Homo sapiens: one gene and its partners. The protein of the gene in region 1 purifies or fractionates together with the protein of each later gene. This does not show direct contact. Each region holds a gene or a part of one and is shown in the gene's direction. Other genes may lie near its edges.

The links.
Region 2: the proteins of ARID2 (region 1) and BICRA purify together in Homo sapiens (affinity purification with mass spectrometry, with the first as the bait; one large-scale study listed by BioGRID). This does not show direct contact.
Region 3: the proteins of ARID2 (region 1) and PHF10 purify together in Homo sapiens (affinity purification with mass spectrometry; one large-scale study listed by BioGRID and IntAct). This does not show direct contact.
Region 4: the proteins of ARID2 (region 1) and RAB3GAP2 fractionate together in Homo sapiens (co-fractionation; one large-scale study listed by BioGRID). This does not show direct contact.
Region 5: the proteins of ARID2 (region 1) and SS18L1 purify together in Homo sapiens (affinity purification with mass spectrometry, with the first as the bait; one large-scale study listed by BioGRID). This does not show direct contact.
Region 6: the proteins of ARID2 (region 1) and FAM120A fractionate together in Homo sapiens (co-fractionation; one large-scale study listed by BioGRID). This does not show direct contact.
Region 7: the proteins of ARID2 (region 1) and DCAF4 purify together in Homo sapiens (co-immunoprecipitation; one large-scale study listed by IntAct). This does not show direct contact.

Annotation. Positions count from the first base shown.
Region 1 is NC_000012.12:45,732,706-45,736,205, forward strand, and holds part of ARID2 (AT-rich interactive domain-containing protein 2), read left to right. Parts: intron 1-3,500. UniProt on the Homo sapiens protein: Involved in transcriptional activation and repression of select genes by chromatin remodeling (alteration of DNA-nucleosome topology). Required for the stability of the SWI/SNF chromatin remodeling complex SWI/SNF-B (PBAF).
Region 2 is NC_000019.10:47,615,634-47,619,133, forward strand, and holds part of BICRA (BRD4-interacting chromatin-remodeling complex-associated protein), read left to right. Parts: intron 1-3,500. UniProt on the Homo sapiens protein: Component of SWI/SNF chromatin remodeling subcomplex GBAF that carries out key enzymatic activities, changing chromatin structure by altering DNA-histone contacts within a nucleosome in an ATP-dependent manner.
Region 3 is NC_000006.12:169,707,501-169,711,000, reverse strand, and holds part of PHF10 (PHD finger protein 10), read left to right. Parts: intron 1-609; coding exon 610-765; intron 766-3,500. UniProt on the Homo sapiens protein: Involved in transcription activity regulation by chromatin remodeling. Belongs to the neural progenitors-specific chromatin remodeling complex (npBAF complex) and is required for the proliferation of neural progenitors.
Region 4 is NC_000001.11:220,147,793-220,150,453, reverse strand, and holds the end of RAB3GAP2 (rab3 GTPase-activating protein non-catalytic subunit), read left to right. Parts: 3' UTR 1-2,161; downstream 2,162-2,661. UniProt on the Homo sapiens protein: Regulatory subunit of the Rab3 GTPase-activating (Rab3GAP) complex composed of RAB3GAP1 and RAB3GAP2, which has GTPase-activating protein (GAP) activity towards various Rab3 subfamily members (RAB3A, RAB3B, RAB3C and RAB3D), RAB5A and RAB43, and guanine nucleotide exchange factor (GEF) activity towards RAB18.
Region 5 is NC_000020.11:62,171,269-62,174,768, forward strand, and holds part of SS18L1 (calcium-responsive transactivator), read left to right. Parts: intron 1-1,413; coding exon 1,414-1,533; intron 1,534-3,248; coding exon 3,249-3,376; coding exon of another isoform or gene 3,377-3,463; exon of another isoform or gene 3,464-3,500. UniProt on the Homo sapiens protein: Transcriptional activator which is required for calcium-dependent dendritic growth and branching in cortical neurons. Recruits CREB-binding protein (CREBBP) to nuclear bodies.
Region 6 is NC_000009.12:93,556,185-93,559,684, forward strand, and holds part of FAM120A (constitutive coactivator of PPAR-gamma-like protein 1), read left to right. Parts: exon of another isoform or gene 1-174; intron 175-197; coding exon 198-407; intron 408-1,642; coding exon 1,643-1,826; intron 1,827-2,396; coding exon 2,397-2,534; intron 2,535-3,500. UniProt on the Homo sapiens protein: Component of the oxidative stress-induced survival signaling. May regulate the activation of SRC family protein kinases. May act as a scaffolding protein enabling SRC family protein kinases to phosphorylate and activate PI3-kinase.
Region 7 is NC_000014.9:72,950,464-72,953,963, forward strand, and holds part of DCAF4 (DDB1- and CUL4-associated factor 4), read left to right. Parts: intron 1-1,334; coding exon 1,335-1,414; intron 1,415-3,500. UniProt on the Homo sapiens protein: May function as a substrate receptor for CUL4-DDB1 E3 ubiquitin-protein ligase complex.

The DNA of each region.
Region 1 (3,500 bases):
CATTTGAATTTTGGACTGTTTGAAATACATATTTTTGAAGTTTTGCTTCATATTTGTTAGATTGATTGACTTAAGTTTTATAACCAGAAAGTACTATAGAATATACATGATTCATGAGATGTATATTTTTCTGAAGAGTTTACATTCATACTAATAGTTTTAGCATAATCAAATTAATATCTAGGCTTCCAATTTTTTTTAACAAAAGTTAATTATAAATATTGTTTTTCCAGTTGTCATTTTTATCTTGGGAGGATATCATTAATTATAGGTACTGTTTTTAACTATATAGTTTCAACATTGTAAGTATTTACATGGTCTTCAGATCAAATTGGGCTTTTTGCTCTTATTAGAAGCTGCTTTTTGAACTATGTCCTTAGTTAAACTTGTTTTTCCTCCATATGTCACTCTCTAGGTTTGTTTTTGCAGGGTTGTAGCTAGGCTACTAGGAAAAAAGTTGAAGCATTTGTTTTGGAAAATAAAACCATGTGAAGATTTGCATGGCTTGTAAAGAAATACAAAAGAAATATGCTGGTCAAAACTTAGGTACTACCAACCTTGAAAGAATTTTTTCCTGGTGGTCTAATATTGCACAGTAAGAGGATATATATGATGCTAGCTTTTACACCTTCCTCTGAAAAATCTTAATTGGCAGACAAGATGCCAAGTAACAGCAATTCTATTACCTACCCATAAGATTGGCTCTTCATAGTAAGAAATAGTAATCGAGTGACTTGATAAGTTACCTCTTTGCTACGTCAGATTGAATATCATCATTACTGATGAGCAGATAATGCAGTGTGTTTTTTAAATTACAAGTGGAATAATTTTTTAATATGAACTGCTTTTTCATTTGACCTATTGTAAGACTGTCATTATATGTGTTATTCCTCCTTTACAAGTTTAATATTTGCTCACATTCCCCTGTAAGTTTGCTATTAATTGGATGGATGGCTGTTAGCCTAGTGTTTTATGATATATCTTCATAATATTACAGATAATTTAAATTAGGAAGAGCAAGCTAGTATGCTGGCCATGTATATTTTAATAGTGTTTTGTTATTTTTGATACAAATATTGACAGTCATTAAATATAGACTTGAGTATTAATGGTCTGCCAGACATTAACTTAATTTTCTCAAATATACATTTATTCAGTTATAGCTTGTCTACAAAAATTTCTTAGAGTCTAAAATTGAAAATGCAATTGATTATTTTAACATTGGCATTTAATTTTTACAAATATAAGTGCCTGCCTGTATCAAAGTTTCTCACCTACTCCAGAAATATATACACGTACTGTGTACCCACAAAAATTAAAAATTAAAAAAAAGTAAAGTGCTTACAGATAATGTGTAAAAGCAGTCTATTTAAAAATTGGAGGCCAGGTGCGGTGGCTCACGCCTGTAATCTCAGCACTTTGGGAGGCCGAGGCAGACGGATTACCTGAGGTCAGGAGTTTGAGACCAGCCTGGCCAACATGGTGAAACCCCGTGTCTACCAAAAATAGAAAAATTAGCCTGGCATGGTGGCTCATGCCTGTAATCCCAGCTACTTGGGAGGCTGATGCAGGAGAACTGCTTGAGCCCGGGAGTCGGAGGTTGCAGTGAGCGGAGATCGTGCTACTGCACTCTAGTCTGGCCGACAGAGTGAGACTCTTTCTCAAAAAAATAAAATAAAATAAAATAAATAAATTAAAAATTGGATACTAATCATCTGTGATGTTTATGCACTTTATTTTCATGTAGTTCCTTTTCTTGGCATGTACATCTCAATGTGTTCCACCAATGTTTATTATTAGGATATTCCTATAGTATGAAAGGATAAGGTATAGTTTCCCACATTTTGTAGATGGAGATATTAAAGTGCAAAAAAAAAAAAAATTAAATGGCTTAGGGAACATTTCATTAATTGGACCAAAATGTTGTGTTCATGACGTGTTCAATAATATTTGGAAATTACTTATGGTTAAATTTATGCCCAAGTATCTCTTTGCCTAATGTGTTCCATATTTACTTGGTGGATTTTAATTTTTTGTTCTGTTTTGTTGTTGAAATTGGGGGACAGTTTGCTGGTCTTATCTGGGTTAAGAATTTGAAGTTTTGGTATGAAGATTTAGGTAAATATTTCAAATATTTTAAAATTTTGTTTTTGCTTACTGATGCCAATATTACAGCTATAGTCAAGGTTAACTTGATGTTTCCTTTATAAAACTTGATTTTTTTGGAAAGGGGGTGAAATATCTTGGACATTAAAAATTTATTGTACAAAACTATATGTTACTAGTTTTCTGGCACTGAAATATTCATTTCTATTTATATGTACCTACCTTTAGAATAGTCAGAAACTTAATTGTAGAGTTATGTTTACCATAGTACATTTTCAATCGCATTGTGAATTTATTCTATTTTTTTTTTCTTGGTGGGTAAAGCTCTTTCTTAAATTACACCATTTGAGGGAGTTTACATTTGTTAGTTAAATTGAATGAATACACTCATGTGTTCTCTAGTTAGTGTCCACCATATAGATCAATTCTTTTAAGAGAAAGCCTTAGGTATATAAGCACTGAGTTTGTAAATTGCTAAACGGAACTGAATAAACTGATTGCCCTTCTTATTCAAGGAAGGAAAATAAAAGTATATGGAGATTGGAAGACAAATATATCAATAAGTTATTCATGCATGTATTTCAAATTTAACTTTATAAACTGTATCGTGTGTGTGTGTGTGTGTGTGTGTGTGTGTGTGTGTGTGTGTAGACAGGGGTCTTGCTTTGTTGCCCATGCTTGTCTTGAATGCCTGGCTTCAAGGTATCCTCCCGCCTCAGCCTTCCAAAGTGCTGGGATACAAAAGTGAGCCACTGTGCCTCAGCCTTCCAAAGTGCTCGGATACAAAAGTGAGCCACTGAGCCTGGCAGTGTATCCATTTTAAAAAACAAAAAACCTGATTTTGATATTTTCTGATATTCTGTTACGTTTTTAAAGGACATGCAGACTTGTTGAAAGGAAGAGCAGAAAGTGGAGAAAGTTGAAAGACTTATCAAAGCTCAGCTAGGTTAGTGTTATGTCTTAGAATCCATGTTTTTAGAGCTTAAATTGCCCAAAGTAGAAATAAATTGAGTTCTTTCTAAGACAGATAGTTTTCACTGAGGTTACAAATTTTCCTGAGGATACAAAATGAGAACATTATAATTCCCAAAAATGTTTATATGCTTTTTTTTTGCAGTTAAATTTTCTACCTTAGCTGTTAACTAAAAATGTCCCTGAATAGAAGCACTCTTTCATAATCCTATCTCTGCTTTGTTGTGGATTCAGTATTTTCATAGTTGATCGTGTGAAATCTATAACGTCTTTGATAGACAAGTATATTGTGGCCGGGCGTGGTGGCTCACGCCCTGTAATCCCAACACTTTGGGAGGCCAAGGCAGGCGAATCACAAGGTCAGGAGACCAAGACCAGTCTGGCTAACACAGTGAAACCCTGTCTCTACTAAAAATACAAAA
Region 2 (3,500 bases), on another chromosome or scaffold:
AAACACCCATAAAGTGCCAAGGTAGCCTTGTCAGTCAGTGTCGGTGTCACCTGTCATTCTTAGGCAGTTTATTTCTCCTGGGGACTGTGACCCCCTTAATTGGCAGGTGTTGGATGGAATGCTGGCTTCTCTGCTTAATTGCAGTGTGACCCTGGGCAAGCAATTCCTTTGCATGGCCTCAGTTTCCTTGTCTATAAAATGGGCCCATGATGCCTCCCTCGTAGGGTCTGCTGTGAGGCTGAACGAAGCAATGTTCTGCCAAGCTGGGCAGGCAGTCGCTTTCAGGAACTAGCAAATGATGCTGCTGTTGTTTTCACTATGATTACTGTTCTCCTGCGGGACTCATGCTGACTCCTCCGCTCTGAAAGGTCCCCATTGTCTTCCTGAAAGGCACACAAGGAACAATGTTGGCATTCTAAACTGCATGGCAGCAGAGGGCACGCAGCAGGCTGCTCCGGCATGAGGCACACAGGGCTTCCCTGTACCGTGCCTCAGTTTCCCCAACTGGAAGAGTGGGCATGAGAGGAAACCCACCTCAGGCATGCTTAGTGTTCAGCACAGTGCCTGGGGTATAGCAAGCGCCCAAAAAATGTGAGTGGCTGTGATTGGAATAATTATTATTAAGTAGCAGAGTCTCCCATAGGATTAGATACCCAAGTTGCTATGGCCTTTCCCCCAAACCCTAGGCAATCAGTGTTGGCATTTTAAATGGAAGGCACAGGGCTGGCATTGGTGGCTCATGCCTGTAATCCCAGCACTTTGGGAGGCCAAGGCAGGCGGATCACTTGAGGTCAGGAGTTCGAGACCAGCCTGGCCAACATGGTGAAGCCCTGTCTCTACTAAAAATACAAAAAAATTAGCCAGGCGTGGTGGCGCATGCTTGTAATCCCAGCTACTCAGGAGGCTGAGGCATGAGAATCGCTTGAAACTGGGAGGCGGAGGTTGCAGTGAGCTGAGATCGCACGATTGCACTCCAGCCAGGGCGACAGAGCAAGACTCTGTCTCAAAAAAAAAAAAAGGAAGACAATGCCCAAATACCCACTGGGCCACAATTTCCTCTTCTGTAACAGAGCTTCCCCGCTTTGGGTGTTGTGACGCTTCAATGAGTGAAGACTTGGGAAGCTTTTTAGGATAGGACCTGGCTCTCAGGAATGCTCAGTGAAGCTTCACTTTGATTCTTATTATCTTTTATTTTTATTAATTTTTTTTTTTTGAGACAAGAATCTCTCTCTGCGCCCAGGCTGGAGTACAGTGGTGTGATCTTGGCTCACTGCAACCTCCGCCTCCCAGGTTCAAGTGATTCTTATGTCTCAGCCTCCCGAGTAGCTATGGCTACAGATGTGGGCCACGACACCCAGCTAATTTTGTATATTTTGTAGAGCTGGTGTTTGGCCATGTTGGCCAGGCTAGTCTCGAACTCCTGGACTCAAGCAATCCACCCGCCTCAGCTTCCCAAAGTGCTGGGATTACAAACATGAGCCACCATACCAGGCCTATTATTTTTAAATATTTTATTTTATTTTATAGAGACAAGGTCTTGCTATATTGCTCAGGCTGGTCTCCAACTTCTGGGCTCAACAGTCCTCCGACTTTGGCCTCCCAAAGTCCTGGGATTATAGGCATGAGCAACTGCACCTGGCCGTCTTTGTTTATTATTATTTTGTTTTCTTTTTTCTTTTTTTTTGCCATCTAGACTCGGCTTGGCAGATTTATTTATTGTTATTTTAACTTATATTTTTTATTTTTTTGAGACAGGCTCTCACTGTGTCACCCAGACTGGAGTGTAGTGGCGCCATATCGGCTCACTGCAACCTCCGCCTCCCAGGCTCCAGCAGTTCTCGTGCCTCAGTCTCCCGAGTAGCTGGAATTACAGGTGCCTGCCACCACACACGGCTAATTGTTGTATTTTTAGTAGAGAAGGGGTTTCACCATGTTGGCCAGGCTGGTCTCGAACTCCTGAACTCAGGTGATCTGCTCACCTAGGCCCCCCAAAGTGCTGGGATTACAAGCATGAGCTATGCACCTGGCCTTTTTAACTTTTTGTTAAGGAAATTTTAAAGCACTCACCGAGAGTTGAGAAAATAGCACAACCACCCCTGTGTAACCATCACCAGCTTCTGCAAAAATTTTCTGCTGATCTGATCTTTTTTTTTTGGCCATTACCTACTGTGCACATATATTTTTTCTTTTTTGCCAAGGTATTTTAAAGCAAATTCCAGATATCATATCATTTCCATTGTATTATTATTGTTATTAATGGTGGTGTTATTTCTGGGATCCAGAATTTGTTTCAGCACCTCCAGAGTCTGTCCTGTTCTATGAAGAAAGTGGCATTAGGCCCATTTCATAGGTTGGGAAACTGAGGCAGCAGGGAGTGGGCTTTGATCAGGTGGTCCTTTTTCTGTGATCCCCTTTTTGGGACTGTGGTGAATTCCCTGTCTTGGCCACACCAAGCCTCAAACCCTGTGGGTTGTTTCTGATTACACAGGTTTGGGGGTCACACCTGGGTGCATGCAGTGTGGGGTACAGGTTCTGTTACTCTGTGCAGAAATCGTCCTCATAAAGGAAGAGTTGAAGTGGGGCTGGCAGCAGGGGATGGACCCCTAGGATGACCCTGGAGGTGATGGGCAACTGGGTCAGCTGTGTGGGTTAAAGTCCTGTTTCTGCTCCTTCTAACCCTGTGACTTGGTGGCAAGCTATTTCCCTCCTTTAGTCCAGGTTAGAGAACTGGAAGTACAGGAGAGATAATAAATACTTATTTGGATGACCTTATTGTTAAATAAGGTCTAGCGTGGAAAAGATGTTTTGCAAGTGCCTGGCTCAGAGTAAACGGTCACTATTGTTAGTGTTGTTATTGCTTCTGTGTATACTCTTGAGGTTGGGGACAAAAATGCTGTTTCTAGGATTGCAGAGGAAGGGTTGATGCCCCTTGACCCCCCAGCCCGGCCCCGCTACCTTCATTCCCTTGCCATGCCCACCCTGTCCCTCTGCACTCTCCCTTTGAAGTGCTTGCCTGTTTAGGGGGCTGCCAACTTCAGCGTGGCCCCTCTCAGCCTCTTATGTCCTCTGTGTCCCAGCCTGGTAACCTTGGGAACGGAGTGAGCGGGAATATCTGTCTGAGGCTGTGAGACCCTTGCTAAAGACCCTTGGGGTCCTTGAGGGAGCGCCTGGTGGCCTCTGCTGCCTGGAGGCAGAGGATGGCCCAGTGTCCAGGGACACCTGCAGGTGAAGCTCCCCGGAGCCACCTTTCCAGAGGCTGGATGCCAACTCTCGTCCACCGTGTGAGGCTGGGCGGGCAGATGTCCACAGCGCCTGCCTCACAGGGTGGCTGTGACAGTTAGCTGGACTATAACCTCCATCACCTGGCACGCATAGTGTCTCATTGACCTCAGACACTTGGCGCCCGGCCTGGGTGCGGGAGTTCTCCCTGGGAGAAGTCTGAGCTCACAGCTTAGCAAGCTCTTGCTGTACTGCGGAATTTCTCTCCCTAGAACGTGCGC
Region 3 (3,500 bases), on another chromosome or scaffold:
TAAATTATAAAATGAAGAATTAAATGATCAGATACTGAGGTCTTAAACCTTGAATATATAAAATATTTCAGATCCTGTTGTAGATAGTTGAGGGATTGGCTCTGCATAGTTTAACATTGTGAAAACACAAATGTGTACTTGAAGGACTTTTTTTTTTTTTTCCTAACTGCAGCGCTTCATTTTTCCTGAAGGACCTTCTTAATGACTTTTAGTACTCAGTGAAAATACCCACACTTATTTGTAACAATATATTTTTGTATGAAACAAATATGTTCCCTTGTGACGGAAAATGATGTTGAAGCTGTGTGCCGTAATAGTAGCTGAAGCGGATAATTGTGTTTTTGTGACTTATGTCAGAAAACAAAGTTGATGAAGGCACTGATATGGAATCAGTTTTATATAATATACTTAGAAGAAGGAGGAATGATTTTTAACATAACTTACTTTAGTCTCCACTGGAAAAAGCTTTCTTACATTTAGAATGATCTTTTTATTTTTAAAATGATAAAGCTTTAAAACTTTCTTTGAATATTTTCCATAGTTTTCAAAATCCAGACTCAAATTTGTCTTAATTCCAAAGAATCTTTGTTTTTGCCTTTTAAACTCCAGGACAGCTCCTCTGGCAATGTATCTGAAGGGGAAAGCCCTCCTGACAGCCAGGAGGACTCTTTCCAGGGAAGACAGAAATCAAAAGACAAAGCTGCCACTCCAAGAAAAGATGGTCCCAAACGTTCTGTACTGTCCAAGTCAGTTCCTGGGTACAAGGTAGAAGAAAAAAGCCCCTGACTCAGCTTCTTTACTGACCAGCCTCTCCCTGAAATATTTTAACTTGACTTTCACGATTGTGGAGCTTCTGCCTGCTGTACCTCACTAGCTGTTCTTCTATGGTGTGCCCTTTGTCCGCTGCTTTCTTTTTTGCTTTATTTCCTTGGTGGCTTTTCTGTCACTTTTGGCTATGGTTTACCTTCTGTTTTCTGTATATGTACAATTTATAAGTCTTTTTTTTTCTTTGAAAGAATAACCAGGCAAGTATGGGTTTTTAAAACATTATTTCATAGGCAGAAGTTTATATTTTCTTTCCTTGGAGTAAAGATCATAATTATTTGGCATTTTAAATGCCCCAGCATTTAGTGTAGCTAAAGCTGCTGAGCTATAAAGTATGAGTGGATATACTGTTAGACTAAGTTGCATTTTTTTTAGTGCCTTTCATTAAGAAAGATCTGGGTTTAATCTAAGGATTATTTGATCCATATGCTAAATTTAGCTAACTCTGGGATAGAAAATAATAAAACCTGTTACTTACATTGTAGTGATTTTTAGCATAACCTTGGTAAAGAGCCTATATGATTCTATGGCAAGAATTAAAACATACTTGTTAACTTGTTGATCTGATTATCCTCAGAGTAAAGGAGTAGGTTGTCAGCAACTATTATTATATTTTGAACTTTTCCTCCCTCTGTCTGCCCCTCCCTTTTCTTCTGAAGAAAAGGTGAGGTGAGAGATGAGTAGCCTTATTTGCATATAGGGATTTAAGAATATCATAAAAGGAAGAATTAGCTGTACAGTTTCATATTTGGGATGGTGGTAGTAAAATAGACTACCTTTTGATTCTTTTGGTCTGAAATGTATTAGAACATGCTTTTATTGCACTTATGAAGGTGTATTGAAGGAAAATTTTAGAGTAAGCTGATGAGAAAGTTTTGCCAAGTGAAATTGTTAAACACCTTGTATGTCAGAACTGTGATTGTGGTAAATAATTCACAAGAACAGGCTGAAGTAAGTCACCTTTCCCTCAAACTAACTAGAACACGTTCTAACATGTTCATTTACCTTTCTTCAAGTAAAAAAAGCGACATTAAGTTAGTGTATTTCATATTTTATTAGGAAATGCTTTTATGTAATTAACTTAAAAATTCTTTTTTTTTTTTGTAGCCTATAGCAAGCAAATTTTAAGCTTAATTCAGCAAGGGTTGGCTTCCAAGGGTGGCTGCAATAGGCTGCAGCTATGTGATTTTTGTACTTGTTTTTACATATATAGCTTATGTAATTTCTTTATATAAATTAATGCTTAATAACTGAAAGCAAGTGAGCTCCAAAGATGAAATTTCAGAAGCAGTATACATGAATGAGTGTGTTCTACTGGTCTGCTAAGAGCTTTAAATGGAAGTGGCCGCTCAAAGCACAGTGTCCTGTTAACTCTTGAGTGCTAAGTAGATCTTTGCAACAGTAAGCTTGATTGATCATGGGTTAAAAAGAGAGAATATTGAAATAGATGTTTTAATACAGGCTGGAAATCAGCTATTCAACACTATCATTGATTTAGTATACAAGAAATCATATGGATTAACTGAACTTAATAGTACTCAAGTAGGATATGCAAAATTTATATTTTACATAATCTGTGAACATTTTTAGTACCTAAAAATGTTTCAGGTATTTCAAAGATGGGAACAACCAGTATCTAGTCATCATACATTAATGTGAACATGCTTATTAAAAGTTAACCTCTTTATAAAAAGTATTAATAAACCAAGATGTGCCTAAATATTAGGGTACTTCAAGCTAAAGGTCATAGTTTATATATAAAAAGTACGAGATTCAAGGAAGTAATGTATCTGATGCTTTGCTTAATAAGATTCACTAGTGCTTGCCCTTAATTCATAGAACAGTATTGTTTAGGTTACATTAACCTGAAATTTAAAGCATAATTATTAGGATTCCGGCCTATAAATACAATAATTAAAATCTATACTATATTATTGCTACCATGAAAGTCTTATCTTTGGCTGTTTTTCAAGTAGAAAAGTAAGTGTACTGTGAGCCTTTTATTTGAGATGCTGAGAGCTATTAGGATGAGTATTTCAGTTTTCTTGTCAATAGTGATACTCTGATGATGTTGCAGTTATTTGAAGTAGAACTGATTGTCTAAACCAGACACACATAGGAGTGTGCTCCATTGGTCTTGTGGAGAGTGCTGCACATTAACCCCTCCCTCAACTGTGCAATCCACTTGAGACTGGCTTCTCTAAGCCACAGTTGTTATCTGCTGTGTAAAGTCCTGGATGCCAGCACTGTGGCTTCTTAGAGAGGGCAGATGCTTTGTATATCGAGCTGCAGCATTCATCGTAGAAAATGCTACAAAGCTGTCTCTCTTCCCCTTCTCTCATGTTTCCCTCTTTTCATCAAGATGAAGGCTGTTGGGTAAGAAAAACTAAGTGATTTAACAAATCATTATGATTTAAACTTAGAAATAAACCTAGAATTTTTTGGTGTCCCTTTTATCATAGGTGTTTAATGTATATTTTAATGATTGTAGAACTTGAATTGCTCTAGAATGTGAATGACTACCCTTGTGTTTTACTCCTTTTGGCTTTTGTTTTGTAAAGAATCTCCTGTGAGGAGTTCTGTTTTTAGAATTTAATATTGTTTGGTTACTTCCCTGACTTTAGTGAAAGATATTAGAGTATTTACTATGCCAGTATCTAACTTAAACTATTAGT
Region 4 (2,661 bases), on another chromosome or scaffold:
AAGGCAAAGATACTAAAAATTTTAAGTCCGACTTTATTTTTCCTACAAGTGTTTAGAAATGCTTCTGGGATTTGCTAATATTATCTGTCCTTGGGAACAGTATTGAAAAAACTGCTTAGTGGTATTACAGCTTTAGCAAACCTACCTCACAGCTGGGATGAGAGGATAAAATACAACTAATTTTGTACCCTATAGTGCCTAGAGCAGTCCAAGTGCTAAATAAATATTTACTGATTAAAACCAAACTATAGCTACTCGGGAGGCTGGAGGAGGATCGCTTGAGCCCAGGAGTTTGAGGCCATTCTGGGCAATATAGCAAGACCCTGTCTCGAAAAAAAAAAAAAAAAGAAAAAACCAAACTAACCAAAACTCTGTAAAAGAGTGCTTTGAGCTCTACAAATACCAAGTATTTATTGTGGTATATTTTTAGAATGTAGCCATACAGTGTAATTATGGGTATCTGTCATGGATCACAATTATTATTCATAGTAAGTCATTGTGATACAGAAGTTTGTTTCTTCACTTCCCCTTAAGAAGCCAACTATAGTAATCATGCAAAGTTGAGGAGTATGTCCTTCAGGGATATAAAAAGAAAAACAAATCTGTTTTTTGAGCTAAAAGAGCACATCCAAACAAGAATTTAACTGGCTAAAATTTAGTAATTACTGTTAAGTAACTATCAAACTTGAAATCTTACAAGATAAATGGTTAAGATGTCTTGAGTATTTGGGATGGGGGCCTGTGAGTCTGATTGAGACATACATTTTACAGAGTAGCAGCACTGGAAAGGGCTAGTCCAACCTCCCAGCCTCTGCTTGGGTCTCCGCTGCCCCAGCCACACACATCCTAGAATTCTTGTAAACATATCTGGCTCTGTGTTAACAGTCACTTGTTATATGTTTTCTAAGAGATTAGTTCTTCCTGTGATTTTTCCAAGTACGCTGAAAGTAGTAGTATGAACTTAAGGAGGCTAGTCAAAGAAACTTGGAGTTATAGGTATTTTTAAAGAATAAATCCTCAATTCCATCATCACTTGGCGGGGAGGGGGCACTTATTAAGCATTTTAGATAATAAAACTGGTTAAGCTTACTCTGGTAGAACAGACAATCAAATCTGGGGATTGCTGAGAACAATAATAAGCTGAAGTATGGCTCACAGAATCCTAACACAAATCATTAAGTCTCTAGTTAGATTTGTTATCCTAAAATTTTTCATAGAATTTTAAAATCTAATTCTGACTTGTATGGTTAAGAAAAGCAGTTAAATATTTTACTACTTATCAAGGGCTTTTAAAATAAATAAATCTGATTGATAGGAAGAAAGGCAAATAAATACCTATGTAGACATTCTATAATAACAAAGAGCCATAGATGATAAAGGAATTAGATTTTAATGTAGAATGGGTGGTTTCTGAAACAAAGGTATGTGGTACTTTGTAGTTATTGATGAGAAGCCAGTAACCAGTAGTGTTTTCCTAGATATATGCCCACCCTCACACAACTTTCTTCATTAACAAACATTAAATATGCATTTGTATCTTATTAAATTATATTGTATAATGCTGAAGGAAAACAAAAAGTGTTCAAATAATCATAACTTCTACATTACAGGTTCTGTTTAGATGCAGAACTAGAGGGGCCAGGGTAAATGTAGATAAAGAGATATATAGCACCATGCTTCTTAATGCTTCATACTTTTGCAAACAGAAAAAAAAAGTTTTACTTTTATTATAAAACTTCATCTATGGTCAAAGTAAACACTGTTACATTTAAATTGCTTTTTAAAAACAATTGCGATCTAAAAAGTCAAAAATCTGAAATTTAATAATATGAGACTTACACTGAATATAATGTTCATTTAGAAGTTGCTGTGGTCCACTTCATTTATAAGGAACAAATATTTTTACAGTACACTATAGCAACAGCAAAAGCCCTCTCTCACCCTGATAGGAATGGGTTTGCTGGGTGTCTAGAAGTTAGATTCCTGCTGAATAGAATTAGCCATCCTTAAAAGATTTTAATCCAATACTGAACTGTTTATAAAATGCTTTCTCTATTGTAATGTACTGTAAGTAGTGAAATTCTGTATATACTGCTATTTTCTGTCTGTTCATTGTTGTGAACTTCTTATGTATATTAGTGAAATAAATTTTCAGCTTTCATGTTGTTTCCTAAACATTCATAAGTATAACTAACTATTAAGAGATTTCTTCCTTTCTTGAGTAACAAATTTGGTGATTATATTCTTTCTGATCCAACCCCAAAAACTAGCTATTCTGAAAAGGCTGATGTTCACTAATGGGAAGAATGAAATGACCCTTCACCTCTTAAGGGAAACAGGCCTCCGCCATTCCCTTTCAAAACTATACTTCTTTTACTTGATACTCAAAACTTCTGCACCAAAATCAGTCAGTATTTTTCCAGAATGCCTTTATTTTCAGTATCATAGAATTTAAATACAGAGTCAAAAGATGATTTATAAAATATAAAACATTTTCTGCTTGGCCGTATTTGAAGACAAGCTGAATACATATCTATGTTCTGAATAAGTCCACTATGGATATATATAGGAAGAGATATACATATATCCATCCACAGATACACACACACATATATATTTCTGCATGTATATATACATAATTCTTTCTATAGTTACAGGAAA
Region 5 (3,500 bases), on another chromosome or scaffold:
CCCCAAAAGCCTGACACCCTTGAAAACCCACTCCCCCATGTCTCAGATGGCTTTCATGGGGGCAGGAGAAAGGATAGTGACCTTAAGTCTTCTCCCGTGACGGTGACAGCTCGTTTGCCAGCTGTTGCTGGAACCGGCCCTGGATTTAGAGGAAGGCGTGGAAGTTCAAGACTCAAGATACTTCCTGGATAGAGAATAACTGGAAAGGCTCAAGTAAGTTTTTCCGAAGCTCTCGCCTTAGGAGGAGTTCAGCCTGGAATAAGAGCGTGTGTTAGTTTTGTCATCCCACCTAACTACAGATTGAATTACCCTGATAGGTTTTTAAGCCATTCCAGTGTGCATTATCTCAATAAAGCTGTTATTTAAAAAAAATACTAGATTGCAGTTTTAAAATACTTAAATTTTACAGCTTCTAAAAAAGGAAAGTTATTTCCAACCAGAAAAGTAAAGTAGAAAATGGATTCTTTGCGCAGAGCATGGTGGCTTACGCCTGTAATCCCAGCACTTTGGAAGGCAGGGGCAGCAGGATTGCTTGAGGCCAAGAGTTCGAGACCAGCCTGGGCAACATAGAGAGACCCTGTCTCTACAAAAGATTTAAAATTACCTGGGCATGGTCGGGCACCGTGGCTCACGCCTGTAATCCTAGCACTTTAGGAGGCCAAGGTGAACGGATCACAAGGTCAGGAGATCGAGACCATCCTGGCTAACATGGTGAAACTTCATCTCTACTAAAAATACAAAAAATTAGCCTGGCGTTGTGGCGGGCACCTGTAGTCCCAGCTACTCGGGAGGCTGAGGCAGGAGAATGGCGTGAACCCGGGTGGGGCGGAGCTTGCACTGAGCTGAGATCTCGCCACTGCACTCCAGCCTGGGCAACAGAGCGAAACTCCATCTCAAAAAAAAAAAAAAATTATCTGGGCACGCTGGCACACACTGTAGTCCTAGCTACTTGGGAGGCTGAAGTGAGAGGAACACTTGAGCCAGGGAGATGGAGGCTGCAGTGTGCCCTCATTGCACCACTGCACTCCAGCCTGGGTCCCAGAGCGAGGCCCTGTCTCTGAAAAAAAAAAAAAAAATTATATCTGCAAAGACCCTATGTCCAAATAAGGTTCCATTCACAGGTACTTGGAGTTAGGACATCAGCATCTCTCTGGGGAGCACATTTGACCCGCGACGCTGGCGTTCATCTCTGTCTTAGTTGTCATATTAACCATTTCGTTTCTTAGCTTTCCATTTGTATTTCTATAAGATAAAGGTGTAGTATAGTATTTGAATGGTTGTGAAAAAATAAACATGCCGAAGCAATGGATTTGGTTTTGGGATTCCAAAGTTACCGTGTCGTGAGTGGGCCACAGAATGAGCCCCCTTAGCCCAGGTGGGGAAAGTCATTTCTGTGTCTCCTCCTCCCTCCAGGAAACTCCCAGTACAGCCAGCAGCAGGCCGGGTACCAGCAGGGTGCCGCGCAGCAGCAGACGTACTCCCAGCAGCAGTACCCCAGCCAGCAGAGCTACCCCGGGCAGCAGCAGGGCTACGGTAAGAGGCGAGCACGGTCCTCGGGGCCCCCCAGCGCCCACCCCTGCCCCTGCCACACATGGGTACGTGCTCAGTACCCCAGCCAGCAGAGCTACCCTGGGCAGCAGCAGGGCTACGGTAAGAGGCGAGCACGCTCCTCGGGGCCCCCCAGCGCCCACCCCTGCCCCTGCCACATGTGGGTACGTGCCCGGTGACCCTGGTGCTCAGGCAGATGTGTAATAAACTTATTTTGAATACCTTTAGGTTTCCAGAAAAGTTGGAAACATCCATGCACGTAGACCTGAAACATCTTATTTTAACTTAAACATAAATTCATTGCCCACGTGGCCTGTGACGGGAGCCAGTGTCCCGTGTATCCATCACCTGCACGCCTCAGGCCCAGCTTCAACCTCTTTGACAGAGCAGGTCAAAGCCTGTGGGTCTCAGCCTTCACTGCAGCTTACAATCACCCAGGAAACTTCTGAAAAATAAGGTGTGGGCTGCCCCAGGTCTTTTGTTGGAGCAAGATCTCAGTTCTCAGGATGAGCTCCACACACGTGGTTTCTTATGAGGCACGTGCCTGATTCTGCTGTGCTTATTCAGCCCTTTACAGCCATTACTAATTAAATAGTATAAAAATTACTTGAGGCCAGGCGTGGTGGCTCACGCCTATAATCCCAGCACTTTGGGAGGCTGAGGTGGGCGGATGACCTGAGGTCAGGGGTTCAAGACCAGCCTGACCAATATGGTGAAACCTCGTCTCTACTAAAAATACAAAAATTAGCTGGGCATGGTGGTGGGGGCCTATAGTCCCAGCTACTCAGGAGATGAGACAGGAGAATTGCTTGAACCAGGAGGTAGAGGTCGCAGTGAGCCGAGATCACACCACTACACTTCAGCCTAGGCGATAGAGTGAGACGACTCCTCAAAAAATAAAAAAATAAATTACTTGAGGCTCAGTGTGGTGGCTCATGTCTATAATCCCAGCACTTTGGGAGGCTGAGGCAGGAGGATTGCTTGAGCCCAGGAGTTCGAGACCAGCCTGGATGACATAGTGAGACCATCTCTACAAAAAATACAAAAATTAGCCAGGCATGGTGGCACACTCCTGTGGTCCCAGCTACTTGGGAGGCTGAGGCAGGAGAATCACTTGAGCCTGGGAGGTGGAGGTTGCGGTGAGCCAAGATCACGCCACTGCACTCCAGCCTGGCTTGGGTGACAGAGTGACACCCTGCCTAAAAAAAAAAAAAAAAATTGGCCTCTATCAGTTCTTGCCGGAGCCTTTGACTTAGCCTTCCTAGAGACGATGTCTCTGTCTCACCTGCCTGCAGGTTTTCAGCAGCTCCCGTGGTAGTTCAGTGACAAGTTACAGCAGCCAGTGTGACTGGGGCCAGCGGGTTCTGGAGGGCTGTCCTGCCTTCAGGTAGCAGCAGTTCTGGGGTGATGGAGAGAGCCCATCAGCCCTCGCCATGCTGGTGGGGGGCCTGGGGCACAGTCCTGGGACCTCACAGGACTGGAGGGGCTGGTGAGTCGGTTACGTGGTGCTCTCGCTGTACAGAGTTAACGTGGAGCCACGTGCAGGTGCCAGGTGTTCTGGAGATTGACAAAAGGCTGATGCATTGAGACGGGAATTTTTCAAGGAGAAGAGGAAGTTTTAAAAAAAATTTTTAAGTTAAGAAAAAAAAAGAAAGAGGTGTCCGTTTTGGCCGGCCTCACGGTTCCTGGTGTCTTCTCAGGGTCTGCCCAGGGAGCCCCGTCACAGTACCCCGGCTACCAGCAAGGCCAAGGCCAGCAGTACGGAAGCTACCGAGCACCGCAGACAGCGCCGTCTGCCCAGCAGCAGCGGCCCTACGGCTATGAACAGGCAAGCTTTCTGGATGTTTCCAGATGTGCCCATCCGCCGCGCCTGTCGAGACATAATGAAGATTTCTCTTATGGCCATGAGGAATAATGAGCTGGAACTAACTGGCTTCCAGGGTTCCTTCCAG
Region 6 (3,500 bases), on another chromosome or scaffold:
AAATGTGTTAAATCACATAAGTATTTCTGTTCAAATGAGGCCAGTGTTAGGTCAATATAAGGTAATGGTAGGACTACTTAGTGGTGCTGTTTTGTTGAGGAATATTCTGTTAACTTTGGAGAGTTTTACTAAGACTTTGAAAGAATTTAATACTGTAGTACTCTTATTCCATAGAAATTACTCTTTTCAATTTAAAGATTGAGAACCTAGATCCCCGAGGAATTCAGCTATCAGCTCTCTTCATGAGTGGAGTAGACATGGCCTTGTTTGCAAATGATGCATGCGGACAGCCAATCCCCTGGGAACACTGTTGTCCTTGGATGTATTTTGATGGGAAGCTCTTCCAATCCAAACTCCTCAAAGCCAGCCGGGAAAAGACCCCACTCATTGACCTCTGTGATGGTCAGGTATGCTGCGGGGCCGGGTGGCTGCCTTTAACTGCAATGAAATAAAGCTCACTGGTTAAATCTGTCATCTTTTATACCATATTTATCATCCTGTGTTTCAAGATTCTGTTTTAGGTTGGGCCTGGTACTGAGTGTCACTAAATATCACTTCAGTACCCAGGATGAGCCAAGCTCCTGATATAACATTGTTTCTCATTATTTGTGGTAGTAATGTTCTAAAATTCACCTTGAACGCCAAATTAGTGAATACTGACCATTGCTCCTAGGGGCAATACAAGGTGCTGGGTTCCTTCAAGGCTCTGGTCACATATTTTTGTTAACCAATCAGTATATAATCTTATTTCATGTGCATTTTCGTTAAAGACACCTTATATAATATGGATTGTTGATTCATTATTATTGAACTCACAGCCAGTAGCTTCTGTAACACGTATATTCTCTGTAAGGCACATCACAGCCTCCTTATGCATTTAGGAACACCAGACAGCACTTCAGCACTACACTTGGAGACCATTTTATTTGTTTGTTTGTTTTGGTTTTTTTTTTTTTTTTTTTGAGATGGAGTTTCGCTCTTGTCGCCCAGGCTGGAGTGCAGTGGTGCGGTCTCAGCTCACTGTAACCTCCACCTCCCAGGTTCAAGTGATTCTCCTGCTTTAGCCTCCCTAGTAGCTGGAATTACAGGTGCCTGCCACCATGCCCAGCTAATTTTTGTATTTTTAGTAGAGACGGTGTTTTGCTATGTTGGTCAGGCTGGTCTTGAACTCCTGACCTCAAGCAATCCACCCACCTTGGCCTCCCAAAGTGCTGGGATTACAGGCGTGAGCTGTTGCACCCAGCCAGGGACCATTTTAAACAGTGAAATTACCAACAAAAAAGGACAAAAATGTGAAACACGTGGCACTTAATAAACTGTGAAAAGGATTCTTGTTTTCAGTATGAGCTGAAACAAGAAGGCAAGCGTTGTCTTGTTTGACCTCAGCTGGGGTCAGTGCATCAGGCAACAAAAATCTTTGCCGTGTTCTGCACAAGTCTGCAGACGACCAGAAAACTGCCATAAGTATTGATTTTTGTGGTTACAAATAAACGTTAGCAAGTAGGAGAATTTGCAGACATAGAATTCATGAATAAAGGGAACCAACTGTATAGTTGATAGATCTTATTTCTTTAGTGCTCATTTAAATTCAATTAAAACCCCCTGTGGATGGCATTTTCACATGCTGGTCCTTGTCTTCCAGGCTGATCAGGCTGCCAAGGTAGAGAAGATGCGCCAGAGCGTCCTCGAGGGGCTCAGCTTCTCCAGGCAGAGCCACACGCTCCCTTTCCCGCCGCCACCTGCCCTGCCCTTCTACCCTGCCTCTGCGTACCCCCGGCACTTTGGGCCTGTCCCACCCTCTCAGGGCAGGGGCAGAGGCTTTGCAGGTGAGTTGATTGGGACGTATTCCTGTGGGTAACAGATGCCAGATTCCTGTAAAGAAAGTGCAGCCCTTATAGGCAAGCCCATCTGCTGTGTTGACCTTGTCACTGTTGGTCTTGGAGATCCTGCAGCAGCAGTTCTTCAAGTCCGTGAGGAGCAAGTTTAATCCTGGAGATAGGGGAGAGGGACCTGCTGATGCAGATGCAAAAGCTGCACCGTAAAATCTGTCAATCAAGCTGAAAACTCTGCTCACATTTTAAGATATATTTGTTTCTCATGTGTAAGGGAAAATAAACCCACCCAGGTCAGAGAGAGCCATCTTCCAGGACTCATCTCCCAGGGCCCTTCCTGAGCCCCATGCTAGTGCCCTGTTGAATGACCCACTGCAGGGAGGGTGGCCTTACAATACTGGTCCCCAGGGACCATGGGCACAGGACAGTGAGGTGACAAGAGGGGCCAGGAGACCCCTCCATGGCAGCTGGAGGAGGCAGGGGCCACTCTGCCTGAATACCCAGCAGGGCCCTGAGTCCTGTCCCTTACACTTCTCCCCTCTCTCTCTACCCCGGGTCCCACAGGCGTCTGTGGCTTTGGAGGCCCCTATGGGGAAACGGTAGCAACAGGCCCTTACCGTGCCTTCCGTGTGGCGGCAGCATCGGGACACTGCGGAGCCTTCTCAGGCAGTGACAGCAGCAGGACTAGCAAGTCCCAGGGCGGTAATTATACCCACCCCTTCCCAGAGCTTCTGCCTGCCAGCACTTCCTTCGCTCCATCGTCTGGCGCCTTCCTTCCTCTACTGTCCTCATGAGCCCCTCCTCCAGCAGAACGGCCTTTCTTCTGGGTCCCCGCTCTGACCCTCATTGACCACTCCTCCTGAGACTCTCTGCTCTCAGGTCTCAGCAGCGGCTCTGCTGTGGCCAGTCTCTCCTTTCAGGGTAGACCACTGAGTGTCCACCTAGAACAGAACCTTTCTGTGCACCTGGGTAACCTGACCATCGCCTCGTGTTCATAGGATGAGCTGCTAATAGTGGCGTTTCTTTCCCAAGCAGCCATCTTTTGGTAAAGATTATCATGCTTGTATAGAAAATGCTAATGGTCACAGAATTCCTGACATAAAAAGTCTGTCACAGTTTGTTTCGCAGAAACATTTTTAAACAAAGATCTAATGTTGGGCATATAAACAAGGCAGTTTACTGTAGATTCCCAGTGCTTCTCTTTGCATTTGTATTAGGCTTGCAAAAGAGAAAAGGGTCTTAACATTTAGCATAGGAAGCAATGTCTTGTGATGGTGCTGTAATTGGAAGTCAGTGACCTGTATCTTTGTCCTAATCCCACATTTTGGGACTGCAGATCTAAATCTGCCCATCAAGTCACATAACAGGATTAACTGTTCAGATGTGATTTTGGAGTTGCATTGAGGATGGGCAAGCCTTTCTCTCTTGATCAACAATGTTTTTCCAACTCAGTTACATGGGATAGTTAGGGAGGCCAGCAAGGGAACTGTGCGGAAAGGTGACTTGCAGATTTGGCGACGGGTCAGCCCCTCTGTCTGCAGGTCACCTCTCCTTTCCCTGGTGCAGCTGCATGCCTCTCTGCCTCCTCTGTCTGCCCACCAGCCTCCTGCAGTGTGCTACTCTGCTCTGTGACTGCTCCTCATGCAGCTCGCAGCCATGTTTCCTCTC
Region 7 (3,500 bases), on another chromosome or scaffold:
AGACTGATGAGAACATTTCTCTGGGAAGGTGAGGGTCAGGCCTGGATTTCAGTGGAGGAAAGGCAAGGGAATGAGAATAAATACAGGCTCCTCTGGAACAAAGTTTGGCTATGAGGGGAAAAGGAGAGGAACCGCGTCAGTCAAAAGACACACACGTAGGCAAGGGTATAAAGGGGCAGGTCAGAGAGGGAACTCCAACGACTATGCTCATGTGAACAGAGACACCCACATGTAGTCAGGGAAATGCAAATTTAAATAACAGTGAGGTATCACCTGGTACCCATTCAGATAAGCAGAAATTTTAAGGGCTGGTAGTGAGATATTCCATGCAATGCCATTTCTGTATGTTTTTTTTTAAACAAAAGCTGCTTTGTGTTATTTATTGACAAATATATGTAGTGGAAATACAGCATGGCTTAGAAGAACTTACACCAATTTGAGAAGAGCAGTTCTCTCTGAGTAGAGGAGAAGGGAGAATTGGACTAGGGAGGGATCAGAGAGGGCTTTTTGGGCTTTTTAATAGTATTTTATTTTTGAGACATGGTCTTACTCTGTCACCCAGGCTGGAGTGCGGTCACATGATCACAGCTCACCGCAGCCTTGACTTCCAAGGCTCAAGCAATCCTCCCACCTCAGCCTCCCAAGGAGCTGGTACTACAGGCACACACCACCACGCCCAGCTAGTTTTTGTATTTTTTGTAGAGACAAGGTTTTGCTGTGTTTCCCAGGCTGGTCTCGAACTCCTGGACTCGAGTGATCCTCCTGCCTCAGCTTCCCAAAGTGCTGGGATTACATAGGCAGGAGCCACCACACCCAGCTTTTAACTATATCTGATTTGTTTTTCCCTTTAAAAAACATCTGAAGCTGGCCAGTCACGATGGCTCACCCCTATAATCCCAGCACTTTGGGAGGCCGAGGCGGGCGGATCACGTGAGGTCGGGTGTTCGAGACGAGTCTGACCAACTTGGAGAAACCCCGTCTCTACTAAAAATACAAAATTACCCGGGCGTGGTGGCACATGCCTGTAATCCCAGCTACTCAGGAAGCCGAGGCAGGAGAATCGCTTGAACCTGGGAGGCAGAGGTTGCGGTAAGCCGAGATCGCGCCATTGCACCCCAGCCTGGGCAACAAGAGCGAAACTCCGTCTCAAAAACAAACAAACAAAAAAAAAACATCTGAAGGTAAATGTGGGCAGTGTAAACGCATGTTGAATCTGGACGGTGGGGGTTACTCTGGCCTAGGTTGTGTGCCGTATGACTTTCTGAAGGGTAAATGTCCATGCCTCCTCCCAGAGGGGAGCCTTGTGCCTAACTGTCCTTAACAGCTTTTTCCAGGCTATGCCTCATGGGACTCGCAGAGACTCCAGGCTGTGCCACCCTGCTCCCAGCATCACTGTTCGTCAATAGTCACCCAGGTACAGGGTTCTCCTCCTTTAAAGAAATCTGTCCTCTGTCTCCCGAGAGCTGTGTGGGGGTGGCTTAGAGAGAAGTATGGGGCCGCTGCAGAGGCACTGTGGGAGGATTCCCTAAGCCTGTCCCAGGGTTAGTACCAGAAGCATGTGTTTTTTTTACAGCATCTGCCCCTTTTTACCCATCTTGGGCCATTTCAGTCATTTCAGCAGCCAGAGCAGACTTAACACGCATGTAAACCAGCGTGAGCTCAGAACAGATTCGGACGCCCGTGCACATCATTCAGAAAACACCTCTGAAGGTCCAAAGCACCTCAGGTGCTATCAGGGATACTTAACAGTCTGCCTACGTTAAGGCAATTTGACTCCTCCTTCCTGACAGCATTCTGGATATTACATTTCAGTCTATCAGAAAATTAGGATCAATAAGACCAGGGTGAGAGGCCTCTTAAGAGTGTGGGCTTCAGGCAGACCTGGCACGAATCCCAGCTCTGCCCCTTGCCAACTTGAATGGAATGTTGAACCTCTCTAAAGTGGACAGGGCCTTCTCAGTCCACATCCGTGGAGAATTAGGTGAGATCATGCACATTTAGCCCAGTGCCTGGTATTTCATTGCACAGCAAGCTTATGAGGCAGGAGTGTGTCTTACCACCATTTTACAGATAAGGAAACTGAGGCAGACAGTTTCAGAATTTGTCTTACAAAAGTAATTTTTAGTGTTGGAGGTCAGGCTCACAGTACCCTTTGGGGAGGTAGTAATTGGGAAAGGGATGTGAGGGAGGCCTCTGGGGTACTGGATTGTTTTATGTCTTGTCTTGTCTTTTTTTTTTTTTTTTTTTTGAGACGGAGTTTTGCTCTTATTGCCCAGGCTGGAGTGCAATGGCACGATCTCAGCTCACCACAACCTCCGCCTCCCAGGTTCAAGCAATGCTCCTGCCTCAGCCTCCCAAGTAGCTGAGATCACAGGCGCACACCACCACGCCCGGCTAATTTTTGTATTTTTAGTAGAGACGGGATTTCACCATGTTGGTTAGGCTGGTCTCGAACTCCTGACCTCGTGATCCACCTGCCTCGGCCTCCCAAAGTGCTGGGATTACAGGTGTGAGCCACAATGCCCGGCCTTTTTTTTTTTTTTTTTTTTTTTTTGAGATGGAGTTTCACTCTTGTTGCCCAGGCTGGAGTGCAATGACACGATCTCAGTTCACCGCAACCTCCGCCTCTGGGGCTCAAGCGATTCTCCTGCCTCAGCCTCCCAAGTAGCCAGGATTACAGGCATGTACCACCACACCCGGCTGATTTTTGTATTTTTAGTAGAGATGGGATTCTCCATGTTGGTCAGGCTGGTCTCGAACTCCCGACCTCAGGTGATCCACCCGCTTCGGCCTCCTAAAGTGCTGGGATTACAGGCGTGAGCCACCACGCCTGGCATGGATTGTTTTATTTCTTAACCTGGGTGGTGGGTACATGGCTATATTTAGTTTGTGATAACTCACTGAACTGTATCCTTACAATCTGTACGTTCTATCAATGCAAAAGTTTATTTTAAAAAATATTTTTTCGAAGCACAGTGGCTCATGCCTGTAATCTCAACACTTTGGGAGGCCAAGGCAGGATAATCGTTTGAGCCCAGGAGTTCAAGACCAGCCTGAGCAACATAGCAAGACTCCAATCTCTACAAAAAATAAATAATTAGCCATGTGTGGTGGCTCACACCTGTGATCCCAGCTACTTGGGAGGCTGAGATGGGAGGATTCCTTGAGCCTGGGAGGTTGAGGATGCATTGAGCCATGATCACGCCACTGCACTCCAGACTGGGCAAAAGAACAAGACCCTGTCTTAAAAAAAAAAAAAAAAAAAAAAAATATATATATATATATATATATATATATATAGTTTATTTATTTATTTATTTGTGTGTGTGTGTGTGTGTGTGTGTGTGTGTGTGTGTGTGTGTGTGTATATACACACACACTTGCCTGAGATCACATAGCTGGTAGGTGATCGAGGATCGGAGCCACCTTACCTCCAACAGTATACTACCTCCCTGATATCAGTACTATTCGTACTGTAAACACGACTACTGGGAACGTTA